Linked DNA regions of Homo sapiens. The protein of the gene in region 1 interacts with the protein of each later gene in a biochemical or structural test. Each region holds a gene or a part of one and is shown in the gene's direction. Other genes may lie near its edges.

Region 1 (3,329 bases):
TAGGGGCCCGAGCCCGAGCCGAGGCTGAGCAGATGGCCAAGAAGGCAGAAGCCTTCCAGCTGTACCAAGAGGCTGCTCAGCTGGACATGCTGCTAGAGAAGCTGCCCCAGGTCTGGAGGTCATGTGGGCACCAAGAAAGGAGGAAATAGAACCAGGGACTAAGGGGTGGGGTGTAGTGAGGGGCTTAGGGAGAAACAGCCTAGGGGGACTCTAAATTAGGGGTGGGAATTATTAGTGACCAAAGTGAGGAAGGATGATCAGTGGAACGAGGACCTTAAAACCCAGAGTAAGTTGTTTTATGAGGAATGTGGTCAGATCATGGGCACTGAGTGGGTGTCTCTCTCCTGCCAGGTGGCAGAGGAGATCAGTGGTCCCTTGACTTCAGCCAATAAGATCACACTGGTGTCCAGCGGCAGTGGGACCATGGGGGCAGCCAAAGTGACTGGGGAAGTACTGGACATTCTAACTCGCCTGCCAGAGAGTGTGGAAAGACTCACAGGCGTGAGCATCTCCCAGGTGAGGTCTCAGGTTGGAGCTGAGGAGAATTGCTAGGTTCCTGTGTTGTGTGACACAGTATGCCTAGCATTTAACCAGCATCCAGGCCTGGGAGTCATTGATGTTTATTAATCACTTTCTGTGTGCCAGACACAGTGCTAAGCTTCTACATAAATGAGTTGTTTTAAATCAAACTACCATTAGGGTATATAGGATTTTACAAAGTCCAGAAACTCAACATCCAGCATGTTCCTACTCATTCTGCTAGTGCAGCTGGAGTGAAATCCAGGTCGACTGTCTCTGCAACCTGTGCTTGTGGTCACCCCACTAGTATAGGGAACTAGTTGCAGCCTATTGACAGTTAATTAATTCTAGGGCATATCACTGCTTTTCTCAGCGCCCCAGTTAATTCACCTGTAGATCATGGTAGAAGTCAGCAAACAGGCTCTGGAACCACTGTTTTGTTGCGAATCCTAGCTACAATGCCTGCTAGCTGTAATCTTGGACAAGTAATCAACCTCTCTATACCTGTTTCCTCATCTTAAAATTGGGTTAATAATTAGAAACTACCCTGTTGAATTGTTGAGGGGCTCGAGCAAATATTTGCAGTGTTTAGAATAGTGCCTGGTATATAGTAAGCATTATGTGTATGTTAAAGAAATGGGGCCAGGTGCAGTGGCTTACGCCTGTAATCCCAGCACTTTGGGAGGCTGAGGCAGGCAGATCACCTGAGGTTAGGAGTTGGAGACCAGCCTGGCCAACATGGTGAAACACCATCTTTACTAAAAATACAAAAAAAAATTAGCCAGGCTTGGTGGTGCATGCCTGTAATCTCAGCTACTCGGGAAGCTGAGGCAGGAGAATTGCTGGAACCCAGGAGCCGAAGGTTGCAGTGAGCTGAGATCACACCACTGCACTCCAGCCTGGGTGACAGAATAAGACTCTATCTCAAAAAAAAAAAAAAATTCCAGGCGCGGTAGCTCATGCCTGTAATCCCAGCACTTTGGGAGGCTGAGGCGGGCGGATCACGAGGTCAGGAGATTGAGACCATCCTGGCTAACACAGTGAAACCCCGTCTCTACTAAAAATACAAAACAGCCGGGCGTGGCGGTGTGTGCCTGTAGTCCCAGCTGCTGGGGAGGCTGAGGCAGGAGAATGGTGTGAACCTGGGAGGCAGAGCTTGCAGTGAGCCGAGATAGCACCACTGCACTCCATCCTAGGCAACAGAGCAAGACTCTGTCTCAAAAAAAAAAAGAGAAAGAAATGCATATTCGGGCTGGGTGCTGTGGCTCACACTTGTAATCCCAGAACTTTGGGAGGCCAGGGTGGACGATCAGCTGAGGTCAGAAGTTTGAGATCACCCTGGCCAACATGGTGATACCCCATCTCTACCAAAAATACAAAAATTAGCTGGGTATGGTGGCGCATACCTGTAATCCCAGCTACTCGGGAGGCTGAGGCAGGAGAATCACTTGAACTCAGGAGGCGGAGGCTGCAGTAAGCCAAGATCGCACCACTGCATTCTAGCCTGGGTGATAGAGTGAGATTCCGTCTCAAAAAAAAAAAGAAAAAAAAAAAGCGTATGTAAATAAAAGCACTGGATCATACCAATGACCTTCAAGCTGGGTTCCTTGGAGCCTCCTGGAGGCCTGCAGTAGAATATTCAGAGCTAAGGAGAGTGTGCAAACAAGGCTCTGCCCCCTCTCCTCTCTTCAGTGATTTATTGTATGTGGGTCCTGATGTCTTTGTTTGGGGAAACAGGTGGTAGGGCACCAGAAAGAACCCTGGCCGTGTGTGTTCTGCCTATAGCCCATTCGTCTAAACTGGGGCCCGGGAGAGTAGGGGCCTCAGCCTCCCGAATGTTCCCAAGTGTCATCTACTGTTGTCTTTTTGCCAGGTGAATCACAAGCCTTTGAGAACAGCCTGAGCCTTCAGCCCTCACAGATGCCCAGCCTCATAGCTGAAGTTGCCTGAATGATCCTCCTGTTGCATGTAACCCACTGGCCTCCCTGAGCATGTCCATTGACAGTGAGGTCCCACCCCTCATCTCTCCTTGCCAAATAGTTTGTGCCTTGTCTTGAAGGGGGTTGCTCCCCTTGCCAACCTCACACTGCTATGATTGCCAACTCCAGCGGTCCCATGTCAGCCTTCTGATGATCCCACTCCACCCCACCTCAACTTATTTAACTTCCTAATTAAATCAGACTGTTTGAGCCTGTTGTCTAGAATATTTTCCTGACCAAGACTGAGGGATGGGCTGGAGGTTTTCAACTTTGCTACCCAAATAAATTGCTGTAAGTAAGTACTAATAAAACAGAAGCAACTGGAAATTAATGCTTGGCCCGGCACAGTGGCTCATGCCTGTAATCCCAGCACTTTGGGAGGCCAAGGCAGGCAGATCATCTGAGGTCAGGAGTTCAAGACCAGCCTGGCCAACATGACGAAACCTTGTCTCTACCAAAAATACAAAAATTAGCCAGGCAGGGTGAAACATGCCAAGTAGTAGTCCCAGCTACTTGGGAGGCTGAGGCAGGAGAATTACTTGAACCTGGGAAGCAGAGGTTGCAGTGAGCCAAGATCGCACCACTGCACTCTAGCCTAGGTGACAGAGTGAGACTGTTTCAAAAAAAAAGAGAAAAAAAATGAATGCTAGACTCAGGTATGGTGACTCTTGCCTATAGTCCTAGCTACTTGGGAGGCTAAGGTGGGAGGATCACTTGAGCTCAGGAGTCTAAGGCTGTAGTGAGCCATGATCACACCACTGCATTCCAGCCTGGGTGACAAAGCAAGATCCTGGCTCTATTAGAAAGAAAATGAATGCTAGAATGTAGCTT
Region 2 (3,931 bases), on another chromosome or scaffold:
CTGCTCCTTCTCAGGCTCCATCTGGCCTGAGCACCCTGCCCCAGCGAGTCCTCCGGAAAGAGCCTGTCACCCCATCTGCACTTGTCCTCATGAGCCGCTCCAATGTCCAGCCCACAGGTAACTGGCGCAAGGGGGAGAGGACTGAGCTGGGGAGATGACCGTCTGTGGGAGGGTTTAGGGATGAGAAGGTCATCCCTGTTCGCATTCAACCTACCTGTTCTCTCCTTAGCTGCCCCTGGCCAGAAGGTGATGGAGAATAGCAGTGGGACACCCGACATCTTAACGTAAGTGCCCCAAGCCTGGGGGTGGACGGGGGTGAGGGGACAATGAACAGGCAGGAAGTCGGGGAGATAAAACCTAAGCACGGGAGGAGTAGGGATGAAGACAAGTGGGGCGGAGGACAGGATGGGATGAGGAAGCAGAGAGAAAGCAAACCTCTTAATAACCAAAACCGGTTCTGAGTTGCCTTCCTCCACTTTCTAAGCAGGCGGCACTTCACAATTGATGACTTTGAGATTGGGCGTCCTCTGGGCAAAGGCAAGTTTGGAAACGTGTACTTGGCTCGGGAGAAGAAAAGCCATTTCATCGTGGCGCTCAAGGTCCTCTTCAAGTCCCAGATAGAGAAGGAGGGCGTGGAGCATCAGCTGCGCAGAGAGATCGAAATCCAGGCCCACCTGCAGTATGGGTTGATGCCCCCTGAGCCGAAGCCCCTCTGCTCCCTCACCCCCAGCTCCTCATTCAGCCCCACTTCATCCAGATTGCTTTCTCTGTAGCTATGGCTAGTGAGCCCCATTTAGCTCTTAGTCCTGGCAAGCCTTGAATCCAGAAATCTGCCTCCAGTTTCCCCTTACCACTCCCAGCCCTGGTGTCCCCGGCCTGGGCCACGTCTGACCCCAGTTTGCTCCTATCATCTTTTCCAGCTCTTTTATGCCTTTGGCCTGAGGCCTCCTCTGTCTCTTCCCCCAGCCATCCCAACATCCTGCGTCTCTACAACTATTTTTATGACCGGAGGAGGATCTACTTGATTCTAGAGTATGCCCCCCGCGGGGAGCTCTACAAGGAGCTGCAGAAGAGCTGCACATTTGACGAGCAGCGAACAGCCACGGTCCGGGCGGGTGGGCACCTGGGGCGCCAGTAGGGGGCTCGAGGCTGAGGGTGTGCTGCTTGTAGCTGGAGGTCCATCCTTGTCTGATTGCCTGTCGTTGCCCCTCCCAGATCATGGAGGAGTTGGCAGATGCTCTAATGTACTGCCATGGGAAGAAGGTGATTCACAGAGACATAAAGCCAGAAAATCTGCTCTTAGGGCTCAAGGGAGAGCTGAAGATTGCTGACTTCGGCTGGTCTGTGCATGCGCCCTCCCTGAGGTATGGTGGCCTGGGAGGCCAGACCTGGGTGTGAGGCTGGGCCATTAAAACCTCTCCAGGGGCCGTGCACCGTGGCTCACACCTGTAATCCCAGCACTTTGGGAGGCCGAGGAGGGCGGATCACCTGAGGTCAGGAGTTCGAGACTAGATTTGCCAACATGATGAAACCTTGTCTCTACTAAATATACAAAAATTAGCCGGCCATGGTGGCGGACGCCAGTAATCCCAGCTACTGGGGAGGCTGAGGCAGGAGAATTGTTTGAACCTGGGAGGCGGAGGTTGCAGTGAGCCGAGATTACGCCATTGCACTCCAGCCTGTGTGACAGATCGAGACTCTGTCTCAAAAAAAAAAAAAAAAAATGGTTAGAGTGTGGTGCTAATAACCCCAAGGTCGCAGGTTTGATCCCTGTAGGGGCCAATGGTAAAACTTTGGCCAGGCGCGGTGGCTCACGCCTACCAGTCCCAGCACTTTGGGAGGCCAAGGCGGGTGGATCACTTGAGGCCAGGAGTTCAAGACCAGCGGACCAGCCTGGCCAACATGATGAAACCCCATCTTTACTAAAAACACAAAATTTATTAAGCAGACATGGTGGTGCACACTTGTAATCCCAGCTGTTCGGGAGGCTGAGACATGAGAATCACTTGAACCCGGGAGGCAGAGGTTGCAGTGAGCCAAGATCGCCCCACTGCACTCCAGCCTGGACTCTCTCAAAAAAAGCCCGGAGCAGTGGCCTTTTTTCCTCCCACATCACTTTTTAATGGTTTCATAGTATCACATAGTAGCTGATTTATTTAACCAGAACATGCCTGATGGGCATTAGAGATGTCCCCAGTGAACTCCAAATGAACACTGCCCTCATATCAGGGTATCTTATTAAGATATATCCTTCAGTGTGGAGTTGCTGGGCTGTGTGCAGGCTCACCTCTGGGGCTTTGGGATATATCATCACCCCAACCCCACCCCCACTCCAGTGGCCTTGCCTGGCTGGACCTCTCCCCTGGTACATCCCGTGGTCTTTTGGCTCCCAGCCGTCAGGCAGCAGGGAAAGGAGAGTTCCTATGTCACTAGGACCCCTGCCCACGCCCCTTATCCCTCCCAGGAGGAAGACAATGTGTGGCACCCTGGACTACCTGCCCCCAGAGATGATTGAGGGGCGCATGCACAATGAGAAGGTGGATCTGTGGTGCATTGGAGTGCTTTGCTATGAGCTGCTGGTGGGGAACCCACCCTTTGAGAGTGCATCACACAACGAGACCTATCGCCGCATCGTCAAGGTGGGAGGGCGGCCTGGGCTTCGTGCCAGCTGCTGAAGCCAGGAGCTGGGGGGCTGGGGGTGGGCAGAGTGTATTTGCATGGCCCTAAGTAACTCCAAACAGAATGGGTAGTCAAGGAAGATGTAGCCAGGGTGAAACTAATGCAGCCCTTCCATCTCTTCACACCTGCAGGTGGACCTAAAGTTCCCCGCTTCCGTGCCCATGGGAGCCCAGGACCTCATCTCCAAACTGCTCAGGCATAACCCCTCGGAACGGCTGCCCCTGGCCCAGGTCTCAGCCCACCCTTGGGTCCGGGCCAACTCTCGGAGGGTGCTGCCTCCCTCTGCCCTTCAATCTGTCGCCTGATGGTCCCTGTCATTCACTCGGGTGCGTGTGTTTGTATGTCTGTGTATGTATAGGGGAAAGAAGGGATCCCTAACTGTTCCCTTATCTGTTTTCTACCTCCTCCTTTGTTTAATAAAGGCTGAAGCTTTTTGTACTCATGAGTGTAGATGTTTCTAGGTGGAGGCTTTGCTGTGGAGGAAGCTGTTCCCTAGAAGGAGAGCTGGCTCACCCTGAGGAGCCGGGATGAGCATTACTTTGCTATCCCTGGTAACACCCTACCCTCTCAGCTCTGACACCCACCTGGTCAGCTCCCAGCCACCCCAACCCCTACCCCCACTTCCACCTCTACCCTCACTGTCTATTCTTTCCGTTGCTCAGACTCCCACAGCCCAGGGGCACTGGGGGCCCTGGCTCCCCATTGCTACATTGGAACACCAGCCATCTCTGGCCACCTTCTTTCACCTCTCTCTTGGTTGTCCAACTTCTAGTTTTTCCTTTTCTGTTTCATTCTCTGCCCCTTTGCCAACGTAGGAGCAACTAAACAGTTCTGTACCCTAGAAGCTGTCTTTGATTATTTCACTGCTCTGGTCAGGATCTAGTACAGGAGCCAATAGAAGCAGCAGTGATTCTGTCTTGTTCCTGACATGAGGTTACACTGTTATGCATGATGCTTGCTGTAGGTTTTTGATAGATACCCTTTATCAGGTTAAACAGGGCCTATTCTACTCATAGTTTACTCAGAGTCTTTAAAAAAAAAAACAAAAACAAAAAAACAGTTAAGTCTGGGCGCAGTGACTCATGCCTGTAATCCCTGCACTTTCAGAGGCCGAGGCAGGCAGATCACAAAGTCAGGAGATCGAGACCATCCTGGCCAACATGGTGAAATCCCATCTCTACTAAAAATACAAAAATTAGCTGAGCGTGGTGGTGCACACCTGTAGTCCCAGCTACTCAGGAAGCTGAGGCAG
Region 3 (4,089 bases), on another chromosome or scaffold:
GTTTACATTTATAAGCAAATTGATCAGAACTGGTATGAAGGAGAACACCACGGCCGGGTGGGAATCTTCCCACGCACCTACATCGAGGTACCGCAGCCTCTTTTCTTTCTAAGGAAAAGCCTGACAGTGCCCAAAGCACCATTTATTTACCAAATGCTTATGTTTTGTTTCCTCCTTTTCCTCTTGTTTCCCTGCTTTCTTCTCTTCCCTTGTTCTCTTTTACCTCTTTCCCTTTCTCAGCTTCTTCCTCCTGCTGAGAAGGCACAGCCCAAAAAGTTGACACCAGTGCAGGTTTTGGAATATGGAGAAGCTATTGCTAAGTTTAACTTTAATGGTGATACACAAGTAGAAATGTCCTTCAGAAAGGTAAGCTGCACTTCTCATGCCTTGCTTTGGGGCTCTCTTGGATGGCGCAGCTATGTGGGGAAGCGTGGTGTTGCTATCACACCCCAGTCTGGGGGTGCTGTCTGTACCCTTAAGAGAAGTATGCCAATCAATAATTGCATTAAGGGCTGGGCACGGTGGCTCATGCCTGTAATCCCAGCACTTTGGGAGGCCGAGGTGGGTAGATCACTTGAGGTCAGGCGTTTGAGACTAGCCTGGCCAACATGGTGAAACCCCGTCTCTACTAAAAATACAAAAATTAGCTGGGCATGGTAGTGGGTTCCTGTAATCCCAGCTATTCAGGAGGCTGAGGCAGGAGAATCATTTGAACCTGGGAGACAGAGGTTGCAGTGAGCTGAGATCGCTCCACTGCACTCCAGCCTGGGCAATAGGTCTCCAAAAAAAAAAAAAAGAATTGCATTAAGGCCTGTAATCCCAGCACTTTGGGAAACCAAGGCAGGAGGCTCGCTTAAGGCCAGGGGTTCAAGACCAGCCTGAGCAACGTAGCAAGGCCCCATCTCTACTGAAGAAAAAAAAAAAAAGAATTGCATTAAGGGCAATTGGAGAATTTTCTGAGGTAAGGTATTTTTAAAATAAACCCTAGGCTAATATCAGGGTTTAACTATATTGAGCTCACTGATTAAACATAGTATTTCTGGAGTCTTAGACATCTTTTATAAGCTGTTTTCAACCAACACTTACCAACTAATGATGTCATAATGCATTGTGTTGGGGACTGGGTTTTACAATATATTGGTGTGACCTAGTGGAAAAAACAGGTCCATTGATACCAGGAGAAGTTTGAAAAGCTTTGAACCCAAAAGGCACAAACCAACTACGCAGAATGTGGGAGTTAAATACTTTTTCCAAGCCACCATTTTCTTATAGAAAAAAAATGAAGATAGATGGCTCTCTCCTAGGTGGTTGTAAGAGGCTTCGGTGAAACAACTTATGTGAAGCCCCCAGCATGACACATGGTATCTTGTTGGTGCTTAGTAAACAGGAGATGCCAGTATTATTATTATCACCATCATGCTTATTCAGAACATAATTACATTGTGCAGAGAAGTTGTTCTTTCCAGAATCCAAACACTCTACATGGCAAAATTCTCTGGCTTGCTAAAGTTACTAAGTTACTGATTTTATTGAGGCTTGAGGGAAGTGAGCACATTGTTAGAAAAAGCACTGGAAGCAACCCAGTTGCCCAACAGCAGGGGATCAGTAATTAAATCATTATATGTGTGTGCGACAGAATACCCTGCAGTGGTCCATTAAGCTATGCAATGCCATTAAAAATCTAGAATTCTATTTCTTGATAAAGAAGGAGGTTTACTATGTGCTATTAAGTATTTTTTAAAAAGCAAGTTGGAAAAGGGAAACACAGTTCATACTCAATTTTTATAAGAAAAAATATGTGCAGGTTTAATTCACATGCATAGAAGTAAATCTGGGGAGTCCATATGCCAAATATTAAGTGTTTATCCCCAAATGACTATGTGATGGGTGATGATTGTTTTCTGCTTTACGTTTGTGTTCTGATTTTTCTATAATGATACATTATAAGTATCTATAATGCTACAAAAGAAAGAAAAAGTGAAACCCCCCAAAATCTTTGCCTTAGAAATGAAGATTGGGTATCTGTTTCACATTAAATGAGTCAAAAACACTACATTTGTTCCCTGGCTTAGGGACACAAATCTGATGTTCTCCTTTACTAAAATACTTAAAGAACCAAGCTGAACTTCCCAGCATCAAGATAGCTCCTCTGCCATTAGCATCCTCATCCCAGTGGTGTTAATTCCCTCCAGGTTCAGCAGGGAAGGTTTTTCCTGAGCTAAGGATGTGATAAACAATGCAGGACATTGAAGCATGCAGGCAGAGGCCCCAGGCATGCAGAGGCATGCTAGGACAAGGACCCTCTCTTTGCTGTGTCTTCCAGGGTGAGAGGATCACACTGCTCCGGCAGGTAGATGAGAACTGGTACGAAGGGAGGATCCCGGGGACATCCCGACAAGGCATCTTCCCCATCACCTACGTGGATGTGATCAAGCGACCACTGGTGAAAAACCCTGTGGATTACATGGACCTGCCTTTCTCCTCCTCCCCAAGTCGCAGTGCCACTGCAAGCCCACAGGTATCTAAGCTTCTCGTCACTGGTTTTCATACTCAGCATGTGAATTTTTGTAGTCAACAGTGCTGATGGCACACAGCCTCTCTGGGGAGGTTTTTGAGCACTGCAATTAAAAACTGTCTGCAGGAGGCCGGGTGTGGTGGCTCATGCCTGTAATCCCAGCACTTTGGGAGGCCGAGGCGGGTGAATCACCTGAGGTCAGGAGTTCAAGATCAGCCTGGCAACATGGTGAAACCCCATCTCTACCAAAAATTCAAAAATTAGCCAGGCGTGGTGGCGGGCGCCTGTAGTCCCAGCTACTCGGGAGGTTGAGGCAGGAGAATCGCTTAAACCTGGGAGGCAGAGGTTGCAGTGAGCCGAGATCATGCCACTGCACTCCAGCCTGGACGACAGAGCGAGACTCCATCTCAAAAAAAAAAAAACTGCAGGAAAGCAGACTGTACACTGGACTTTGTCTTTATGCATACAAATGGCCTTTTCCAGTGCTTGGTTGCAGATATATCTCAAGGGAAAAGGAATAGTCAAGTAATTGCTCTGGGAATAAGGTGACTAGGGAAAGAGAAACAGAGAAACAAGAGCCTTTATCAGTTGGCCCCTCTTGGGTGAAGCTGTTGGTGTGGGTACCACCACTGTGTCATAAATCCCATGGTCCAAATGCGGTCCTCAGTCATCTTGGCCAAAGTTGACCTGCAGAAGACAAAGGCTGAAAGAGAGACTTACACCTTCTCATCAGCCATATAGACCAGATCCAAAGTATTATTTGCATTCACTGGAACCAGGTGATTGGAACAAGTAACTTACAGCATCTCAGTCTCTGTGGGCTGAAAGGATATAGGTTTATAGGCGTAATAAGATGTTGGCTTTCCCAAACATTAATTATGAACAAACTTGTTTAGAAATATAAACTATTCCTAACTGATCCCCACTTTCCCAAAGCCAAGAAAATGTCAGAACCTTGAGTTCAGGGTGACACGGTGGGGGTGACATCCCTGTGAAAGAGCCTGGACAAACCACCATGTATGTTGTAAGGAGGTTGGCAGAGGAACAAGAGTAGGACCTGGGGGCCCAGGTTGACCCTGAGATGGTGCCTCTTGTCTGGTCCTCTAATTGTTTCCTCCTCTGCCACCTGCTCATCACTGACCCCAGTAGAGGGTTCTTGGCAGAAAGCATTAAACGGGCTGACCCAGGGCTTCCTGGACAGTGATAGCCGCATCCTGTTGTCTTATAGGACAGAGTGTGTGACTGGAGTGGGACATTCTTCTTTGTAAGGATGCAGGGAACTCAACTACATTTTTCACTTGACTAGCCAAGAGTGATTGTAAAACAAAACTAGTACACTACTCATACTCCTCTCTGGAAGACTCTGCTGAGCTCCCAGAGAAAATAAAACCCCAGGGAAGGGCCATGGCAGTGTGGGGCCACCTTTCCCCGTATGGTTCCGGGTCAGGGATCTGGATGCACAGGGGCTGGGTTGGCTGGGATGGGGAGCTTCCAATGTGTCCCTTTGAAAATCTGATTCTGCAAAGCAGGGCGGCCTCATCCGTCACTACTCTGACGGGAACCTCTCCCCATCT
Region 4 (4,089 bases), about 100 Mb from region 1:
AAGAGCTCTAGCTTACTTATGTGAGTACATGCACGTAGGTCTCTTTCATGTCACACTCTTTCGATGCTTTTGCCCAATCGTTCCCTTGGTTTGCAGAGTTTCTCCATCACTCTGTCTTGTTTTCCTAACTACCTACTCATGTCGCAAGACTCAGCTTAAACAGCATTTATTTCTTGCAGCCTTTACTGACACACCCTGTCCCCAACAGTGTTAAGGGCATCCTGTTTTTGTTACTAGGACATTTTATATCATCACTGAAGCAGCTATGTATTGAAACTGGAGTTAAATGCCCATATCTCCTATCAGCTTATGAGGGACTCAAAGTCAAAAGCCTTTTCATTATTGGATCTCATCTACCAGACTGCTTTTGCACAAACTACTTGTTCACTGTGTTGATAACATGGTTTGACGGGAAGAGGGGATGTAGGTTTTGGAATCCAAAGACCTGAATATGAACATAGGCTCTGCCACTTATTAGCTGTGTGCCAGTCTGAAAACCATATAACCTTTGTGATTCTAGTTCTTTCTATTTGGCATAAAAGTCATTCAGTCTACCTTGCTGTGAAGATTAAAAGAGATGATGTAAATTCCTGGCTCTGTAGGAGCTCAAAAAATGATAGTTACAGTTCAACTGATTAAATAATGAAAAGGGTTCCTGCTGTGAGCATCTGATGGTCATGATAATGTCTGAAGTACTTTATTTTTTAATTGTTCAGCCACGAGGAGGGGTGGAAGAAGGCCCTACAGTATTGAGAAAGGCTGGTCTGCTTGAGAAACTTAAAGAACAAGGTAATTTTTAAGTTGAAAAATGATCAGCCTGATTTCCTCCCCACTCTGAAGGAAAGAGCAGGCCCCTGTGAACCTGGAGTGTGTCTGGAATATTTACATCAGAATTGCGGTACTGGTTACAACCCGAGAAACACATCCTACAAAAGCAGCAGGGCATGGGGAGAATGCTCAGGAAACATTGCTGGATGTACATCCTCACTCAGATATTTTGTCTTTCCAGCCAAACTACAGTATAAGATAAATTGTGTGTGCAAGAACGGGGGTTGGGGTGGATGGTAGGGGAGCCGGGGGAACAGCAAATGGAAGGCAAGGTGCAGCAGGAAGTATGCTACTAGCAAGAGGACCCCTATTTGTGAAATAAAATAAAATAAAACAGTAATAATGATAATAACAACAGCGCCTAGTGTGGGCGCAGTGTGTATATATACATACATATACATAAGCATGCAAATGCAAATTTACGTATATTTTTAAAGTATGGGCTCAATTTTCTGTTACCTTTACATATAAGATTCTGATAAAGTGTTGGTCAGGATGTGGAGAAACTGGAACCCTCATATATTTCTGATGGGAATGCAAATGATACAGCCACTTTGAAAGTAGGTGGGCAGTTTCTCAGGTAAACATATATTTACATTTTGACCCAGCAGTTCTACTCCTGGGTGCAGAGAAGTACAACTACAAACATTCAAGTACAAGTCTTTGTGTGGATATGTTTTCATTTCTCTTGGGTAAGAGATTTGTGCTTGAATGTTTGGGGGCAGCCATATTTATAATAACCAAAAAATGGAAACAGCAAAATGCCCATCAACTGGTAGATGGTTAAACAAAAAGTGTCACATCCATGCAACGAGATAGTATTCAACAATAAAAAGGAATGGACTGGTCGGGCACGGTGGCTGAGGCCTGTAATCCTATCACTTTGGGAAGCCAAGGTGGGTGGACTGTCTGAGCTCAGGAGTTCAAGACCAGCCTGGGCAACACAGTGAAACCCCTTCTCTAGTAAAAATACAAAAAAAAATAGCTGGGCGTGGTGGCATGAGCCTGTAGTCCCAGCTACTTGGGAGGCTGAGGCAGGAGAATGGCTTGAACCCGGAGGCAGAGGTTGCAGTGAGCTGAGATTGCGCCACTGCACCCCAACCTGGGCGACAGAGCGAGACTCCATCTCCAAAAAAAAAAAAAAAAGAAAAAGGAATGGACCGCAAACACAGGCAAAAACATGGTAGATCTCAAAAGCAGCATGATAAGACAAGAAAGACTACATGTATGATTCCACTGATACGACATTCTGGAAAGACAAAAGCATAGCAAAAGAAAGCAGATCAGCAGTTCCTGGGGTTGGGGGCAAGAATTACCTCTAAAGGGGCAGGATGGAATTTTTCAAACTCATTGACCCGCACAGTTAAAATTAGTGAGTTTTAGTGAACAAGAATTACACTTCGTAAATCTTTAAAAAAAAAAAAAAAAGACAAATACAGACACCCAGTAGAGAACAGAATGCTTGGGTAATGGACTTGTCCCTTAACTGACAAGCATAATTTGGTCACGTGTTGTATCAGGTGAAATTTCTTGGAGGCGTTACTAAATCAGATTCACACAGACATGTAACAAATACCATATTTAATGGCCAATTAGTTCAGAACACCGAACTGAATCACAGTTTTACATGACACTCTCTACTTTTCAAGCCTAATTCAAGGCCTTTTAGGGAGCACACCCAGTCCTTAGGAATTTGGGGTTACCTGCAATTTTTCCTTACTAAAAAGAATAACTAAAAAGCTTTATTTCCGAAGCTTCCAAAGTGTTAGGCTCAGTGCTAAGTACATATTCACATATTCTTATTTATTTATGATAATACCACTATGAGGCAGGTTCAATGGATACTTTGTGTGTCTGTGTGTGTGTGTATCTCCAGATGAAAATACACCAGTGCTTTCTAAATTTTCTGAGAATACATATATATACCGATATATATGTATTTAATTATTATCAAAATGAAGCATGCTTACTATAGAAAGGTAAAAAGCACATAAGCAGAGAGAGACAGAGAGACAGAGACAGAGACAGTGGCATTCCCTATTAAGCCCAAACCAGAAGATTATCACTGTTACATTTTGGTGTCTAGTTTAACTGGATGGATTCAAGAAGTGTTCACTGAGAGCCCAGTATACAGCCGCACCAGTGTGTGATACTGGTAACATGACGTCAAGCAAAAGCAGACATGGGTCTACCTTCCCAAGATTTACAGACCTTTCAGGTTTTTCCTTTGCTTATACTTGTGAATATATGCCTATTTTATACAATTGAGATCATCCTACACAGACTGATTTATAATCTACTTTTTAATTTAGTAACTCAAAACTTTTTAATTTTAGAGTGTGATGTGAAGGATTATGGGGACCTGCCCTTTGCTGACATCCCTAATGACAGTCCCTTTCAAATTGTGAAGAATCCAAGGTCTGTGGGAAAAGCAAGCGAGCAGCTGGCTGGCAAGGTGGCAGAAGTCAAGAAGAACGGAAGAATCAGCCTGGTGCTGGGCGGAGACCACAGGTCTTGTTGAATAACTGTGTCTATGGGAATCTGGCACAAAGGAAGTAACCAAGGCCATAAGAAGAGAGAAAATTTAGAAATATAGACAGAAAAGCATTGACCTATATTTTATATCAAATTTTCTGCCTTTAAAAAAATTTTATAGGTTACTTTTATTATAGAAACAGACTTCGCTCAATTTGAAGTCTTACAATATCTGTATTTTGACCTAGTACAGCAGAAAATGTATGAAATATGAATGGATTTCATCTAAATATTCATCACAAGCTTACATTTCTAAATAAGTATGTGAGGCAATTCATAGCTTATTTGTTCTTAATTGCCGATAATATATACAACTCATATAGGTCAACAATTTCAAAGCATGTGTTTTTCATTATAAAAGTAATGATCATAACATTTTTGAAAGCATCAGACACACACACACAAGAAAAAAAATGTGGTAATTGTACTTCTCTAGCAACCATTTCAACCAGAATTGAAAATCTGGCACATTTCTTTCATGGCATCTTTTTTTTCCTTGTACATGATGACTTTGTTTAACGTGTGTGTGTGTGTGTATGTGTGTGTGTGAGAGAGAGAGAGAGAGAGACAGATGTCTATGTTGTGTTCTCACTCTACAGTGCAAATTTCCTTGTTGCTTCATGGGATGTGCATAAGCATCATAAGCATCAGTTTTTTAATTGCTGCATGATTTTTCATCAAGGGGTTACATCGCTATATACGTACATATTGCGGCATATTCAGGTT

What was found. Proteins that work in one complex are often made in the same cells at the same time.
Region 2: the proteins of FLOT1 (region 1) and AURKB form a complex in vitro, tested with the Homo sapiens proteins (one study listed by BioGRID).
Region 3: the proteins of FLOT1 (region 1) and SORBS1 form a complex in vitro, tested with the Homo sapiens proteins (2 studies listed by BioGRID).
Region 4: the proteins of FLOT1 (region 1) and ARG1 form a complex in vitro, tested with the Homo sapiens proteins (one study listed by IntAct).

Annotation. Positions count from the first base shown.
Region 1 is NC_000006.12:30,727,209-30,730,537, reverse strand, and holds the end of FLOT1 (flotillin-1), read left to right. Parts: coding exon 1-110; intron 111-351; coding exon 352-516; intron 517-2,392; coding exon 2,393-2,422; 3' UTR 2,423-2,829; downstream 2,830-3,329. UniProt on the Homo sapiens protein: May act as a scaffolding protein within caveolar membranes, functionally participating in formation of caveolae or caveolae-like vesicles.
Region 2 is NC_000017.11:8,203,924-8,207,854, reverse strand, and holds the end of AURKB (aurora kinase B), read left to right. Parts: exon of another isoform or gene 1-14; coding exon 15-117; intron 118-229; coding exon 230-284; intron 285-484; coding exon of another isoform or gene 485-487; coding exon 488-679; intron 680-920; coding exon of another isoform or gene 921-966; coding exon 967-1,105; coding exon of another isoform or gene 1,106-1,115; intron 1,116-1,215; coding exon 1,216-1,364; intron 1,365-2,464; coding exon 2,465-2,639; intron 2,640-2,810; coding exon 2,811-2,984; 3' UTR 2,985-3,121; downstream 3,122-3,931. UniProt on the Homo sapiens protein: Serine/threonine-protein kinase component of the chromosomal passenger complex (CPC), a complex that acts as a key regulator of mitosis.
Region 3 is NC_000010.11:95,337,562-95,341,650, reverse strand, and holds part of SORBS1 (sorbin and SH3 domain-containing protein 1), read left to right. Parts: coding exon 1-87; intron 88-240; coding exon 241-366; intron 367-2,323; coding exon 2,324-2,518; intron 2,519-4,089. UniProt on the Homo sapiens protein: Plays a role in tyrosine phosphorylation of CBL by linking CBL to the insulin receptor. Required for insulin-stimulated glucose transport. Involved in formation of actin stress fibers and focal adhesions.
Region 4 is NC_000006.12:131,575,947-131,580,035, forward strand, and holds part of ARG1 (arginase-1), read left to right. Parts: intron 1-716; coding exon 717-789; intron 790-3,140; coding exon of another isoform or gene 3,141-3,164; coding exon 3,165-3,339; intron 3,340-4,089. UniProt on the Homo sapiens protein: Key element of the urea cycle converting L-arginine to urea and L-ornithine, which is further metabolized into metabolites proline and polyamides that drive collagen synthesis and bioenergetic pathways critical for cell proliferation, respectively; the urea cycle takes place primarily in the liver and, to a lesser extent, in the kidneys.